Linked DNA regions of Homo sapiens. The protein of the gene in region 4 purifies or fractionates together with the protein of the main gene of each other region. This does not show direct contact. Each region holds a gene or a part of one and is shown on either strand. Other genes may lie near its edges.

Region 1 (3,500 bases), on a different chromosome or scaffold from region 4:
CTGCAGGTACCAGTTCCACCCGTGGCAACGGCCATCACCCCCCTGGCCACCATACCCCGCCCCAGCTGCCATCATCCCCCAGTCGCCATTGTCGCCCCCCAGCCACCATGTCCCCCAGCCACCACACCCTGGTGACTGTGCTGCCATTTCCCTCAGCTCTCCAGGCACAATAAACAGCTGCAGCACCTGCTGAAGCCGGTGAAGCGCATTCAAGAGGAGGAGGCCGAGGGTATCTCTTCCATGGTGGGTGCTGGCCCCGAGACTGGGGTGGGGGTGGGGCCTGGAACCCAGGGAGGACACTTGACCCAAGGGCGTGGCCTGGAACAGAGTGAGGCCCTAGAATATGAGCCAGGCTAGAATTTGGGGGTACAGCTCAGGGGGCTGATTGGGACTGGCAGCCGTGGGTGAAACCCAGACAGAAATGGAAGCAAGGCTCAGGTGGGTCTAGGGTGGGTCTGGAAGCTTCAAGCAGGACCCGGGCTACACTTGGGCAGGACTGAGGAGGCCCCCGCTATCCTCTGGGATTCTCTGGTCATGGCTCTCCCACTCCCCTCCCTTTGGCACCAGGTTCTCAAGGCTCAGTCCTAGTTGGGCTGGGCTTGGCCTGCTCTGGCTTGGCGGGGACACTCGCTGAAGTGTAGTTCAGAGCTAGGCGAAGGCCTGGGAGGGTGGGGGCTGAGTGCCAGCCTGGATGTGGAGGCTGGGGCCTGACCTCCGCGCCCTCCCCACCTCCAGCTCAGCCTCAACAACAAGCAGCTGTCACAGATGCTCAAGTCCTCAGCGCCAGCACAGGAGGAGGAGGAAGACCCCCTGGCCTACTATGAGAACCACACGTCCCAGATCGAGGTGGGCCTGTGGGCAGCAGGGGCGGGCGTGGGAGCCTGCGCCGGGCGTGACCATGTGCTGTGTGTGCTCAGATTGTGCGGCAGGACCGCAGCATGGAGCAGATCGTGTTCCCAGTGCCCGGCATCTGCCAGTTCCTGACGGAGGAAACCAAGCACCGGCTCTTCACCACTACTGAGCAGGACGAGCAGGGCAGCAAAGTGAGCGACTTCTTCGACCAGTCCTCCTTCCTGCACAACGAGATGGAGTGGCAGCGCAAGCTCCGCAGTGAGGACCCACGGGCGGGAGGGTGGGGCGGTCTGGAGCTGTTCACTGATGCCCTGTTATAACGGCCTCCTTTGCCTGCCTGTGGGTGCCCTGCGCCCAACCCCGCCTCACCCCAAGGAAGGGCTCTTCCATGTGTGGCTTCCTCCTGAGCGGGGCCCCACATGCAAGGGGCAGGGGGTGCTCACCAGGGCCCTCCAGCAGCTCACCGTTGCCCTCCTCTTCAGGCATGCCGCTGATCTACTGGTTCTCCCGCCGCATGACCCTGTGGGGCAGCATCTCCTTCAACCTGGCCGTGTTTATCAACATCATCATTGCCTTCTTCTACCCTTACATGGAGGGCGCGTCCACAGGTGAGAACACAGGGCTGGCCGGCAGGTTCCCCGGGCCCTGCCATGCTTCCTCCCTGGGTTGGGGCAGAGCCTTGAGGCCAGCTGGCCTCTGAGGGCACCAGATGCAGAGTGTGCAGAAGCACCCCCTGCGCCATCCTGTGGGCTCTCGCCCCATCATGGAGACACAGGTGCGGTCAAAGGGGATGGTCAGGGTCTTTGACCTCATGGGAGATGGCGCATGCAGGCACGTGCACACGCATAGATGTGTCAGCCAGAAACAAAACCTGGTAGCCGCAGCCGGACAGGGCCTCCCGCTTAGGCCTGAGAGGCAGGTGTAATGGAGGAGGCTAAAACCAGGCACCAGGAACTTAACCGGGAAGGCGGCCAGGAGAAGGTGGCTTTTCGGCACCTGTTGGACCTGCTCTGGGGCCGTGGTGGGCTTGAGGGAGCCCTGCTCACCCTGCCCCTGGCCCCCAGGCGTGCTGGACTCCCCTCTCATCTCATTGCTCTTCTGGATCCTCATCTGCTTCTCCATCGCGGCCCTGTTCACCAAGCGCTACAGCATCCGCCCCCTCATCGTGGCGCTCATCCTGCGCTCCATCTACTATCTGGGCATCGGGCCCACACTCAACATCCTGGGTGCCCTCAATGTGAGTGCCAGAGGGAGCCCCCATTCCCAAACAAGCTCATGCTCACTGTGCATTCAGACGGCAAGCTGGCCTGCTGCTTCCAGGAGCCACTGCTCTGTCCCATCCCCTCCTCTCTGTTGGGCTCCCAAGTTCCTTATAGACCGGTGGCAGGGACTGTTCTGTACCTTCTTCCTTTCCCTCAACACCTGAGGGCAGCTGGCACTCAGAGACAGAAATTCAAGAGTCCCTTTGGAGCAACAGGGTCAGGGTGGCTGTGCACACTGTGCGGGCTGTGCACTGCCCAGAGGCACTGCTACGCGGCAGACGTGAAGATTCATACATAATGACAATCTCCTGACAGATGGAAATAAAGTGCTTTGAGCGAGGAATACCTTTCCCTGATAGAGCCAGTCAGTGGTCTTCTCTGTCCCCATCCTCCGTTGCCTGTACCTCACTGTCTTCCTGGAACTGAGGACCCAAGGGGCTGCCTCTGTATTCTGAGTCCCAGGCGCCTAGATGCGTTTCTGGAAGCAATTTCATTAATGCCATGCCTCCCAGGCTCTGAGCTGGGCACTGGGGGACATGCGTGCAGATTCAGCATAGGTGGTAGGGTGCTGACTCTCATGCCTTGCACTCGCCCCCAGCTGACCAACAAGATCGTGTTTGTGGTGAGCTTCGTGGGCAACCGTGGCACCTTCATCCGGGGCTATAAGGCCATGGTCATGGACATGGAATTCCTCTACCACGTGGGCTACATCCTGACCAGTGTCCTGGGCCTCTTTGCTCATGAGCTGTTCTACAGCATCCTGGTGAGGCCTTCTGGGTGGGCTGGGGCTGGATGGGGGCATGGGGTGGTTGGGGCTTCCCATGAGTTGTTGGCAGTTCCCCGGCACCAGTCTGTCTGTCCAGTCCTTTTGCTGCTGGGCTGGGAGCAGTGAAATTACAGAGTCTTCATCTGCCTGACCCAAGCCTGGCCCTCAAGGCCCTGATGGCCACTCCTGGTGGCCATCTGACCCCTTTCTCCTGTACAGTGGTGGTTCAAGCCTGGACTCTGGAGCTGGACCAGGGCTTTGCATCTCAGCTGGGCTACTACTAGCTGTGTAACTGGGCAAGTTTCTTAACTGCCCCATGCCTCAGTTTCCTCACCTGTAAAATGGGGATAACAACAGCCCCTGCATTCTAAAATAATTGTGAGATGAAATGAGCTAATGCATGGAAAGCACTTACACTGTTTCCTGGCATGCAGCAAGTACATTTTAAGAGTTGGCTGGTATTCAGCCACCCGTTTCACCCCTCGTGCCTTCCCCTGGGCCACTCCCTTTCTGTGACCTTAGAATTCCAGGTTTCTCGAGAAGCTCCCCTGACAGGCCCACCCAGCTTGGATACGACTAAGTGCAGACCTCCCTGGAGGAGCCTTGGGAAACTGTCTGGA
Region 2 (3,500 bases), on a different chromosome or scaffold from region 4:
ACAAATAGTTATTGAGCATCCACTATGGGTGAGACACCATTCCAGGAGTAGAAGACATGGCAATGAACAAGACACCAGGTCGCACCCTCATGGAGCTTATGTTTGCAAGGAGCTGGGCACACAGAAGCAGTGAAAACACAGGAGTGAGTCCCTCCCTTCTCATAGGGATTTTTTTTTTTTCTTAAATGGATTCTTAATGGCTGCTGGCATTTACTTTAGAGAGGTGAGGTTTTTCTAGGCAGTTACAGTGATGCGTTTTGACAACCTCCTACTTTGGCAGAGTTCTCAGCATTTCCAGGTCTTGTCGGCTGTACAGGGCAAAGGGTGTGTTAGAGATATTTCCCAACTGGAATGGGAGGCTCCAGCCTCCCTCATTTGTTCCAGGTCACTCCCTGTGATAGACTAAGCTCATATAAGGGCCCAGCCCTGTTCTGAGTCCAAGAGTTATTTTTGTTGATTGTCAAATATTTATTGAGCACCGATTAGGTGCCAGACACTGAGCATAAAATAAAAACAGAAATGAGGCTGTTCATGTGGAGGAAATGAGTCTAATGGGTTCCCCTACACCTCCAGGCCTCATTCACAGGCCCCTTCCTCAGGGAGGCCTCCCCAAACCCACTCCTACCCTCTGTTATTACTCCCATAGCAAGTGGCCATTCCCTTTCTGTGACATCCCTTACACCTCTACTCAATACCTGTCAACCCTATTGAACTGCAGGACCTCTGGGGCTGGAAGCCTGGTTTCCAGTTCTATGCATTGGCTCATAGTTGGTGCTCAATAAGATACTTGCTGACTGCATGGATGAGTGAAACTCCTAAGGCCTCCCAGAGTGACGCAGACCCTTTCCCTAACAGTAAGATGATCTGGAATCAACAGGAATTGGGAACACTAAATTACCAAGTGGCTGATGACGATCGGACTCATTTAGACCTAGTTTTCCCCTTCTCATCATCTGCTGCTTTCCTTCTAACTAGGAAACTTTCTGCTGGGAATGGGTTTAGGGACTGTGATGAAAGAACCCACTGCTCTTCCCTCCAAAGTCTAAGCAAAGTTCAGTCAGATTCTATCAAATGTGGGTTTCCTATCTGTGTCTTTTCCTCATCTGTGCTATCGCTCTTCCCCTTGAGCTCTGATGGCCAGTGGCCAACAGAAAATGATTAACTCCCCCGAGTGCTTTTGCATATATATTTTGATATTTCACCCTTTCTTCCTAGATACTAAAGTCTATGCTGCTTTGGGAAATCATGATTTTCACCCCAAAAACCAGTTCCCAGCTGGAAGTAACAACATCTACAATCAGATAGCAGAACTATGGAAACCCTGGCTTAGTAATGAGTCCATCGCTCTCTTCAAAAAAGGTACCAACACCACCTGCTCCTATCAAGAGCACTTACTGTATGCCAGGGTCTGATCTTCGTCTTCACAACAACCTCTTAGAATAAGTACTGATTTTATCCCCAATTTACAGATAAGGAAGCCAGGGTCATACAGCTTAGAAAAGGCAGTCTTGGGAGCAGACTCCAGAATTAACTCCAAAGCCCTTCCTCTAAACCCCACGACACTGATGATGCTCCTAAGTTCATATTTATTGAGCCTTTACTGTGTGCGAGGCACTGCCCTCTCAGCCTGGTCCTAGACACTTCACAACAACCCTTGGAAGGAGTGGTTTCATTTCCAGCAGGTTTGAACCTTGCCACCACTGACACCATGGGCTGGATAACTCTGTCGCAGACAACTGCCACGTGTGTTGCAGAATGTTGCAAACACTCACTAGAGTGATACCCTCAGGAACACCCCCAGCTGTGACAACCAAAAATGTCTCAGACATTGCCCAGTGTTCTCTTGGGCCAGAAGCACCTGGTTGAGAATGACTGGTTCAGAAACACAGCCAGCCCAAGGTGACTTTGACCCTACTCTTCCCTTTCCTCGGTCTCCTGCTGTTGGGACTCCCCAGTGGTTAAAGCCGACCAGAAGCCTGTGCCACAGAAGCCTGTTGATTTAGTCCACATAGATCAGCTCTTGGAAAAGACAGCTGAGCAGTGAAGGGTCGACAGTGGATCTGGATGGGCAAACACACATCACTGTTAGTCTCACTATGCAGATAAGGAAACCGAAGTATAGAGAGGTGAAGTTACTTTCCCAAGTTGCACAGCGAATGAGTTCCAGAGCCAGGAATTGAATCCAGGCCGCCTGGCTCCAGAGCCTCTGATCTTCCAGATTGATGTCCCACCCATGGGAAAGATGGGAGGGGAAGATGCAACGGAAAAAGAAAGTGGGACATTGAGGTGGAAGGGGCGGAAGCCTGTCTGGCCAGAGGTGGGGGCCTCCTTCATATTGTCCCTGGCTGTGACAGGTGCCTTCTACTGTGAGAAGCTGCCGGGTCCCAGCGGGGCTGGGCGAATTGTGGTCCTCAACACCAATCTGTACTATACCAGCAATGCGCTGACAGCAGACATGGCGGACCCTGGCCAGCAGTTCCAGTGGCTGGAAGATGTGCTGACCGATGCATCCAAAGCTGGGGACATGGTAAGAGGCCCTGCTTCTTTCTTTTCTCATCTGGGGTTATTTCCTGCACAAGTCTCCCGCTTGGCACAAACTCACCCACCCACCCAAAGATGCCCATATCCCAGAGGGTCCTTTATCAGCCCGGCACCAGCAGAGGGCTTCCTCCATCCTCACCACAGCCCTGTGTGCTGGGATCTGGAGCCCACTGCAGATGAGGACCCTGAGGCTCATAAAGAGTGGTGACGGTCCCAAGTCACATAATAAGTGACGAAGCCCAGACTAGAAGACCAGACTCCAAGTCCAGTGCTCTTTCCACTCCCACCACATGCACAGCTGCAGCCAGTACTGTGTGCCAGATCTCCAGGGGATGCCCTGCCCTTGAGTGTGTCCAGCTAGCCTGCTGGCCTGACAGCTCCTCAAGGACTGGCTCAGTGTCTCATTTGCCCAAGTCCTTGCACTGACCAGCCCATCCCAAGAGGATCTCACAGCTGGTGCCCATGAGCATGCACTATGCCAACATTGGGCACGTTGTTTAGGACATTATGCGGATGATCTCAGGTAGCAGAACTATGGAAACCCCGGCTCAGTAGCGAGTCCATCATTCTCAAAACCCCACCAGCTATGTGCTATTCCAGATGAGAAAACAGCAGCTCAGAGAGGTGATACACAGCTGGTGTCTAAGCTGCAGTCTGACTCCAAAACTCATACATTTAACTCTGTCCCCTGTTCTAACTCCTGCCATGGTGGCCAAGTGCCCAGGTGTTGTCAGATGAGTGACTCAAGGAATGTAAGAAACGAATGCACATTACCGTGTAGCATATCACACAACCACGCAAGAATGGTTTCGTTGCAGTGTTCAAGCTCTCCAAGAGAAGAGTAGTCTTTGAAGGATTAGGAAAGCTTCATGGGGGAGGTGCTCTTTGAAGTGTGGGGAGGATTTACAGAAGTGAAAAGGAGAAGGGTACTCCAGGTGGCAGGCACAGAGGTGGGAAGG
Region 3 (3,500 bases), on a different chromosome or scaffold from region 4:
AATAAAGGATAACATTCACGTCAGCCCAGAAAGCCTGGCTCAGGGGAAGCTGGACTGGAAGAGGAAGAAATAGAGAAGGGGACAAGGGTGGAGAGCCCTACACTGCTTTGCAGGGGAGAATCGAGGACACTCCCTGTCCCAGGTTCTTTACACACAGTGCCTGTGACTGTGACCCTCACAGTACAGGCCTGGGCTGCATGGCCCAATGGCATGGTGCCAACAGCGTACAGGGTGTTCAAATAACAGGAAAGCTCTGGTGCCCAGGGTAGTTTTGTGGCCTTGCACTGGACACACATGGTCATCAGAGTCATGAGAGCACCTCCCTGAGTGCCAGCCACTGTACCAAGGCGTTAGTTACCTAATCTCACCAAATCCTCAAGGCTGGCCACAAGCTTGTAACCATTACCGTCCCCATTTTATACACGAAGACACTGAGACTCAGGATAGACAAGTCCACACAGCTGCTGAGTGGTAAAGTCGGGAATCACTCCCATGTGTGACCATCTCCAAGGCCCATGCTTTCAAATCCTCAGCCAGACAACATCCAGGATGAGCCCCGAGCCACTGGCAGGTCAGCATCCCCTGCCAAACCTACCTTGGATGTCCGTAAGGCGCCAATGATGTGCACCAGCCTTCCTTCATTCTCCGGAGCCACACTGTGGATGCTGTCGGGAGACACCACAAGCGAGAGCCCCTCAGCCAATGAGGTTGCCGTCTTCAATGCGCGGCCCTGGGAGCAAAGGGGAGTGGGGATTTCAACAGCTCAGGGGTGGCTCAGCATGACTGTGCTTGTTGCAAAGTATTAGGGTAGGATGGGGCCTCCGGGAGCGCTGAGACCCATCTCCCCACCGTACAGTTGGAAAACTGAGGTCTAGCAAGTGGAGAGTAAGGACTGGAACCCAGATTCCTGCTTTCCCAGGGAGACTTCTTCCTACTGCCCCATTGGTTCCCACTAGCCCCCACCAATCTTAGCACTGCCCCAGTGGTGGGAACAGCTGATGTTTCTGCCTGCCTGTCCCTTTCTCCCCATTTTTCTCTGCCTTCTTTTTTTTAATTTTATTTTTATGTTTAAGTTTTTTGTAGAAATGGGGTCTTGCTATGTTGCCCAGGCTGCTTTCGAACTTCTGACCTCAAGCGATCCTGCCTCCTTGGCCTCCCAAAGTGCTGGGGTTACAGGCTTGAGCCTCCATGCCTGGCTCTCCTCTCTCCTACTCAGCCCATGTGGTTTACCTGAGTCTATCTGAACCCTGGTCAGATTATGGGACCCAGACCTTGCCAGTCAGAACATGTGAGTGCGCCCTGGACACGGAGACTGATTCAGAGGACGGAGAGCCAAGCCAGGACACTGAGAGATGGCCCTGTAACTGCTGCTAAATTGATTTAGAAATATACTGTTGCATCATGAGGCCCTATTAAAAAAAAGGAGAAAAAGAAAGAGAGAGGGAGAGAAAGAAAGAAACAAACAAACAAGAAAGAGAGAAAGAGAGAGACAAAGGAAGGAAGGAAGAAAGGAACAAAGGAAGGGAGGGAGGGAGGGAGGGGAAAGAAAGGAAAAGAAAGAAAGGAAGAGAAACAGATGGTTTTTCTCTTCCCTGGGCTAAGTGGTTGGATGTAGGCCAGTTGCTGGGGCCACATTTGCCATCACAGATGAAGTGCCTGCCCAAGAAAAACACCATAATAGAGAAAAACAGGCAAAAGATGAAGAAATGGAGATTCCTGGTGACCCAGCATGAACACCTGGATCCAACTACGCCTGAGGCAGGTGCTAACCCCTGGATATTCAGGTGTGTGAACTGATCTACTCCCCTTCCTGCTCACATCAGCTGTGGGATGGATCACAATGGAAAGAACTGTGATTAACTCAGTATCCTCCTTTCTCTTTTTAAAATCTAGGCCCTTGATTACCAAATCCAGCCTCCGGGTTCATCGCCTTTGCTCTCTGACATGGTGGGGACTCTCACTCTGCACAGGAAGACCCCAGACATTTTACCTCATTGGTGAAAATTAGGTAGAAGGAGAGCAGGAAGGCCATGAGCCCCACAAACATCCCACCCGAGGTCTCGCTCAGCCGTTCCAGGAAGCCTGGCTGGGAGCTGGTTTTAACTTTGACATGTTCTCTCCGGGTACTGGTACTGGAATACTGAAGAAAAAGAAACAGTAACAGAATGAAAACTAGTTTTTAAAAATAAATTAAATTTGCTATTTATTTATACTCAATTTTTTTTTTTTTTTTTTTTTTTTTTTAGTTTTAACTGTATGTGGTAAAAACACACAGATATTCAATGTACAGTTTGGCAGGTTTCCACAAACGTATATTCCATCTGACCAACATCTAAAGCAAGGTACAAAATATTTCCATCACCCCAAAAAGTTTCTTTGTGCCCCTTTCCTGCCAATTCTCCCCCTCTCCACCAACCAGAGGTAACTGGTGGGGATGGGGAGAATCTGAATTTGAATTTCTCCTACCGTAGATTAGTTTGTTTCTTCTACAACTTGAGAAAAATGGAATCAGGGCACCAACTCCTTTCTGCCCAGCTTCTTGGACTCAGAGCACTGCTTTTGCAATTCATTCATGTTGTGGTGTTTATCAGGAATTTGTTCCTTTTCATGGCTGAGTAGTATTCCATTTATGACTATACCACAGTGTGCTGAATCATTCGTCAGTGGATGGGTATCTTGACAGCTTCCAGGTTTTGGCTGTTATGAATAATGCTGCTGTGAATATTCATACATGAACCTTTATGCAGACATGTGCTTTCATTTCCCGTAGGAATATACCTAGGAGTACAACTGCTGGCTCGTGAAGAAGATGTACGTTTAACTTTTTATGAAACTGCCAAGCTATTTTACAAAGAGGTTATTAGAGATGTATTTTTAATTAAATTCAGCAAACAGTGGCTGAGCTTTCTGAGGGCAGTGCTAGCCCTTGTGGGGTCAGAAGTAGACAGTCTTAGGGCAGTGAGGTCACAACCATAAACAATACTAGAAGGTCACACAGAGGGTCCTGTGATGGGGGTGGACTTGGTGCTCAAGGAGTGACCCCTTCCACCTGGGGTATCAAGGAGGCTCCCTTGAGTGGAATCTTAGAGGCAGATCTTAGGGGAAGAGCATCCCTAAAGGGAGAACCGTATCAGCAGTGATGAGGAAGTAGGAAGTGGTTCTGGGGGAGCAGCTGCCTGTCTGCTTTGGCTGGGTGGGAGCAGTGGAGGAAGAAAGGGCTTGGAGGTAGGCATTTCTGGGCAGGTTCACAGTGGGCCTCAAACTCAAGGGTGAGTGGATCAGGCTTTGGTCAATAACAGAGGCATGATTTGGGGTGCATCCACTGCTGATCAAAAGTGTCATCGTCTAGGGCAGGATTCTGGAGCCAGAAGAACTGGGTTTGCATTTATGCTCTGCCACATACCAGCTACGGGGTCTTGGGCAAGCAACTTCACCACTTTGTGCCTTCCATTTCCTCTGTGCATAGGGTTGTGGTGAGAACCAAAGAACACAGTTATTGG
Region 4 (3,500 bases):
ACCTATATCTAACAGGGACACCCATTCTTAAATATTCTCAAAGAACCAAAACTAAACCAATGTACATTTTAAAATTTCATGAAAAGTTTGAATACATGGACCTGCAAACATGTTACTAATTTGGTACACTGTGGACTCTGATTAATATAGATATAAATCACATAATACAATAAAGCCACTACAACCTTTTCTAGTGTAGTTTAGACTGGAGGTAGGGACTAAACAACAAGGCTAGAAAGCTGTAGTTAAACAGTGATAACATTTGATATTAAATATTGTATTTTTTCCGTCTCTAATTGATTTCTTACCTGAGTAATTAAAAACTTCGTTATGTGCTCTGGCAACCTGCCCTTTTCACTTGACAAGATCATTTCCAGCATGTCTCCATGGAGTTTTTCCATAACAACAAACACTCTTTCAGGCGTCTCAAACATACACTCCAAATTTACAACACCAGGGTGATGAAGGTTCTATTAAAGATAAATAAAGCACTTGAAGAAAATGAGTTTTTTGATACTGTTTGGCAAGCTCGCTGATTATACAAAACTGTTCAAGCTTAGAGCTATAGAGAAACCCACACTTAAGATTTTTAACACCTCTACATTCCACATGTGCTGCCTTATATTTTTGAAATTCTAATGTCTCCAAAAAATACATCTTTACTTTCTATGCGTAGTGAAATTATTTCTATGTGAAAAAAATCCAAGTTCTAGCACAGTGAATTGCTAATTAGGTTTTAATTAGAATACCATATTGAGAAATCTATAATTTCTTAGGATCATCCCCAATATTAAACATATTGTCCTAACTAAGCATACTAGGCTATTTATATACAATTGGTAGAAATCTAATGTAGTAAAGATGAAATTCATACATGTAGTGCATCGGGCCATGCACTGATTAAGTACCTTAGTCAAAACCTTTTAGAAATGCTTTGCTACTGGTACTGGAGGCTGCAGTTTTTGACAGAAACTCTTATACTAAGTGAAGATCATAAAAATAGCAACAAAAAAAAAGTGAGCCTGTGCTTTGTCTACAATACCATCCTACCTGCTTGGTTTTCAAGCACGCAATAAATATAGCTAATCCTTGAGAAACACAAATTTGAACTGTGTGGGTCCACTTACATGTGGATATTTTTCGATAAGTACAGTTGGCCCTTGGTATCTGTGGGTTCTGCATCCACAACCAAGTGAGTATTGAAAATACCGTGTTCACCGGATCCAAAAACCTGAGGATGAGGAGGACCAACTTTTCCTAGAGGGAAGTTCTGCAGAGCCAAATGTGGGATGTAAGTATGCGTGGATTTTGATATGTGGTGCGGTGGTTCTGGAACAAATCCCATGCGGATACCAAGGGACTGCTGTCTTTCCACAATAAAGTAATGACTAGTAATGGTAAGCAGCATTTTGCTTGACACATTAATTGCCACATGTCAAGTAAAATTACGCTTAGCATTAGACGATCTCTTGTAATAATGCTTAAATCTGAACGTTCTTCTGGGTCATCAACAAATGCCTTTGATCATTTGACCTTTACCTTTTTTCTCTGCACAACAACAAATCCTAACATTAAAAAAAAATTATATATTCCACTTATATCCCAATGAGCAAGAGAAGAAAAATCATCATGAACAAAAACCACCTAAACAAAAAAAGCAGGAACTAACTTAAATGTGCTAACAGCTGAAGAGAGAAAAAAATTAAATGCTTCTTTATTTTAGAAAAAAAAATCTCAGTGATAAAATTGTACGTAAAATGAAATTTAAAACCTCAAATGGCTCACTGCTCAGAAACCTCACAGATGGATGCTGGGTGGTGAGCAGCAGAAGGGGTTGTGGGTGAGTCTACATTGTTGTAGTTGTCCTCTCACTACCCATTTGCAAGGAAAGCCTGGCATCAACTGGATATAGAACCAGGAGCTCTGATGATGATAACTCATTTCTTAGAGAGTCCTTTTTCTACTTTGCCTGTTTTGATCTCTGCCTCAGGCATCTGATGGGTCTCTTTGATTCTGATGCCTTGGGTCAAATCATACAGCATAATGGAGTCATGGAATTGCAAGTTTATTATGAATGTGATCTGAGCAGACGCCTACACATCTACCCAATAGCCTTTAACCTCTAAAGGGCTAGAGTCATTGTTCTTCAAACCGTTGCACTGTTAACTGGTCAAGTCTGGCAACTTCGAATAGACCTCACCTCCCACGTTGCTCTCTCCTGGTCAGAGCTGAAGCACATGGAGATAGTTGGGGTTCACAAAGCTCATATTATCAACCCTCTTACTTTACTTTTCCTGATTACTTGCAAATAAGAGCAGATAGCCAGATGGCTTTGAGTATTATGGGAGGGCCAGAGGCTAAGGAGGCGACTAATATGACGACATACACTTGTTTGATAGGCACTATGGAACATGTGATAGTATTGTTCATACTTGAACTTGTGTCCCAGGCTGTCTCATTTCCTTTTCCTTACATGCCTTTCCCTGTTAGAGAAGCCAGACTGACTGCACAGACCACTGGCCTCTGAAGTGTCAAAGGTCTCAGCTGTTCTCTTTTAATCAATAATCACAGCACGAGCTTTAAGGATTACATGAGTTCGGCTAGAGTTCTGATTCTCCTAGGACAAGTCCACTATGATATGTGCAAAGTACACGTTCCTCTTTGAGCATCTTCATTGATTCTTTTATTTTTCTATTTAATATAACTGTAAGCACTTAAGCAGTGTTCTGGGGAGTCTGGCTTCCTTAAATGGCTAAGCTTTGCAGTACGGGTGGGAAGCAGAAGCAATGAATCAGAAAGGAGCAGAGCAACAGAAGTAGACAGGAAGGGTAGGTGTCCTCTGTGTGTAGGCAGACGAAAAACTAGTAGGAACAAGAGATAAGCGTTAAGGGAGAGTGACCTCGGGGGCCCAGGGAGGGCAGGGGTCACGGGAGTAGTATTGGAGCTGCACAGCCTGCTGCTTCTGCTGATCTTAGATTCTGAAAGTTGGAGAAGAGGGGAGAGACGCAATGACTGGGGAGTCCTCCTACCTAAATTATCTGAATGATATGAATCCTTATGTGCCTCTACCTGTATTCCTCTTTTTTTTTTTTTTTTTGTTTTGACGGAGTTTCACTCTTATTGCCCAGGTTGGAGTGCAATGGCAAATCTCGGCTCACCACAACCTCTGCCTCCCAGGTCCAAGCGATTCTCCTGCCTCAGCCTCCCGGGTAGCTGGGATTACAGGCATGCACCACCATGCCTGGCTAATTTTGTATGTTTTGTAGAGATGGGGTTTCTCCATGTTGGTCAGGATGGTGTCTAACTCCTGACTTGAAGTGATCCGCCCACCTTGGCCTCCCAAAGTGCTGGGATTACAGGCATGAGCCACTGCACCTGGCCAGTACATGAGTTCTTAGAGGTACTAAAGTCCTTCACTCAATTTATTCCTTTTTCCTACTCCACAACATGACCTGAGGTGCCCCTGTACAGAGGGTAGAACTTTAATACATGTTTATTTC

What was found. Proteins that work in one complex are often made in the same cells at the same time.
Region 1: the proteins of PRKD1 (region 4) and ITPR3 purify together in Homo sapiens (affinity purification with mass spectrometry; one large-scale study listed by BioGRID and IntAct). This does not show direct contact.
Region 2: the proteins of PRKD1 (region 4) and SMPDL3B purify together in Homo sapiens (affinity purification with mass spectrometry; one large-scale study listed by BioGRID and IntAct). This does not show direct contact.
Region 3: the proteins of PRKD1 (region 4) and TMEM43 purify together in Homo sapiens (affinity purification with mass spectrometry; one large-scale study listed by BioGRID and IntAct). This does not show direct contact.

What each region holds. Positions count from the first base shown.
Region 1 is NC_000006.12:33,687,322-33,690,821, forward strand, and holds part of ITPR3 (inositol 1,4,5-trisphosphate-gated calcium channel ITPR3), read left to right. Parts: coding exon 1-6; intron 7-156; coding exon 157-243; intron 244-735; coding exon 736-846; intron 847-917; coding exon 918-1,110; intron 1,111-1,334; coding exon 1,335-1,460; intron 1,461-1,916; coding exon 1,917-2,089; intron 2,090-2,712; coding exon 2,713-2,877; intron 2,878-3,500.
Region 2 is NC_000001.11:27,952,000-27,955,499, forward strand, and holds part of SMPDL3B (acid sphingomyelinase-like phosphodiesterase 3b isoform 1 precursor), read left to right. Parts: intron 1-1,215; coding exon 1,216-1,359; intron 1,360-2,354; coding exon 2,355-2,527; intron 2,528-3,500. UniProt on the Homo sapiens protein: Lipid-modulating phosphodiesterase. Active on the surface of macrophages and dendritic cells and strongly influences macrophage lipid composition and membrane fluidity. Acts as a negative regulator of Toll-like receptor signaling.
Region 3 is NC_000003.12:14,128,052-14,131,551, reverse strand, and holds part of TMEM43 (transmembrane protein 43), read right to left. Parts: intron 2,141-3,500; coding exon 1,991-2,140; intron 731-1,990; coding exon 596-730; intron 1-595. UniProt on the Homo sapiens protein: May have an important role in maintaining nuclear envelope structure by organizing protein complexes at the inner nuclear membrane. Required for retaining emerin at the inner nuclear membrane.
Region 4 is NC_000014.9:29,599,348-29,602,847, forward strand, and holds part of PRKD1 (serine/threonine-protein kinase D1), read right to left. Parts: intron 471-3,500; coding exon 309-470; intron 1-308.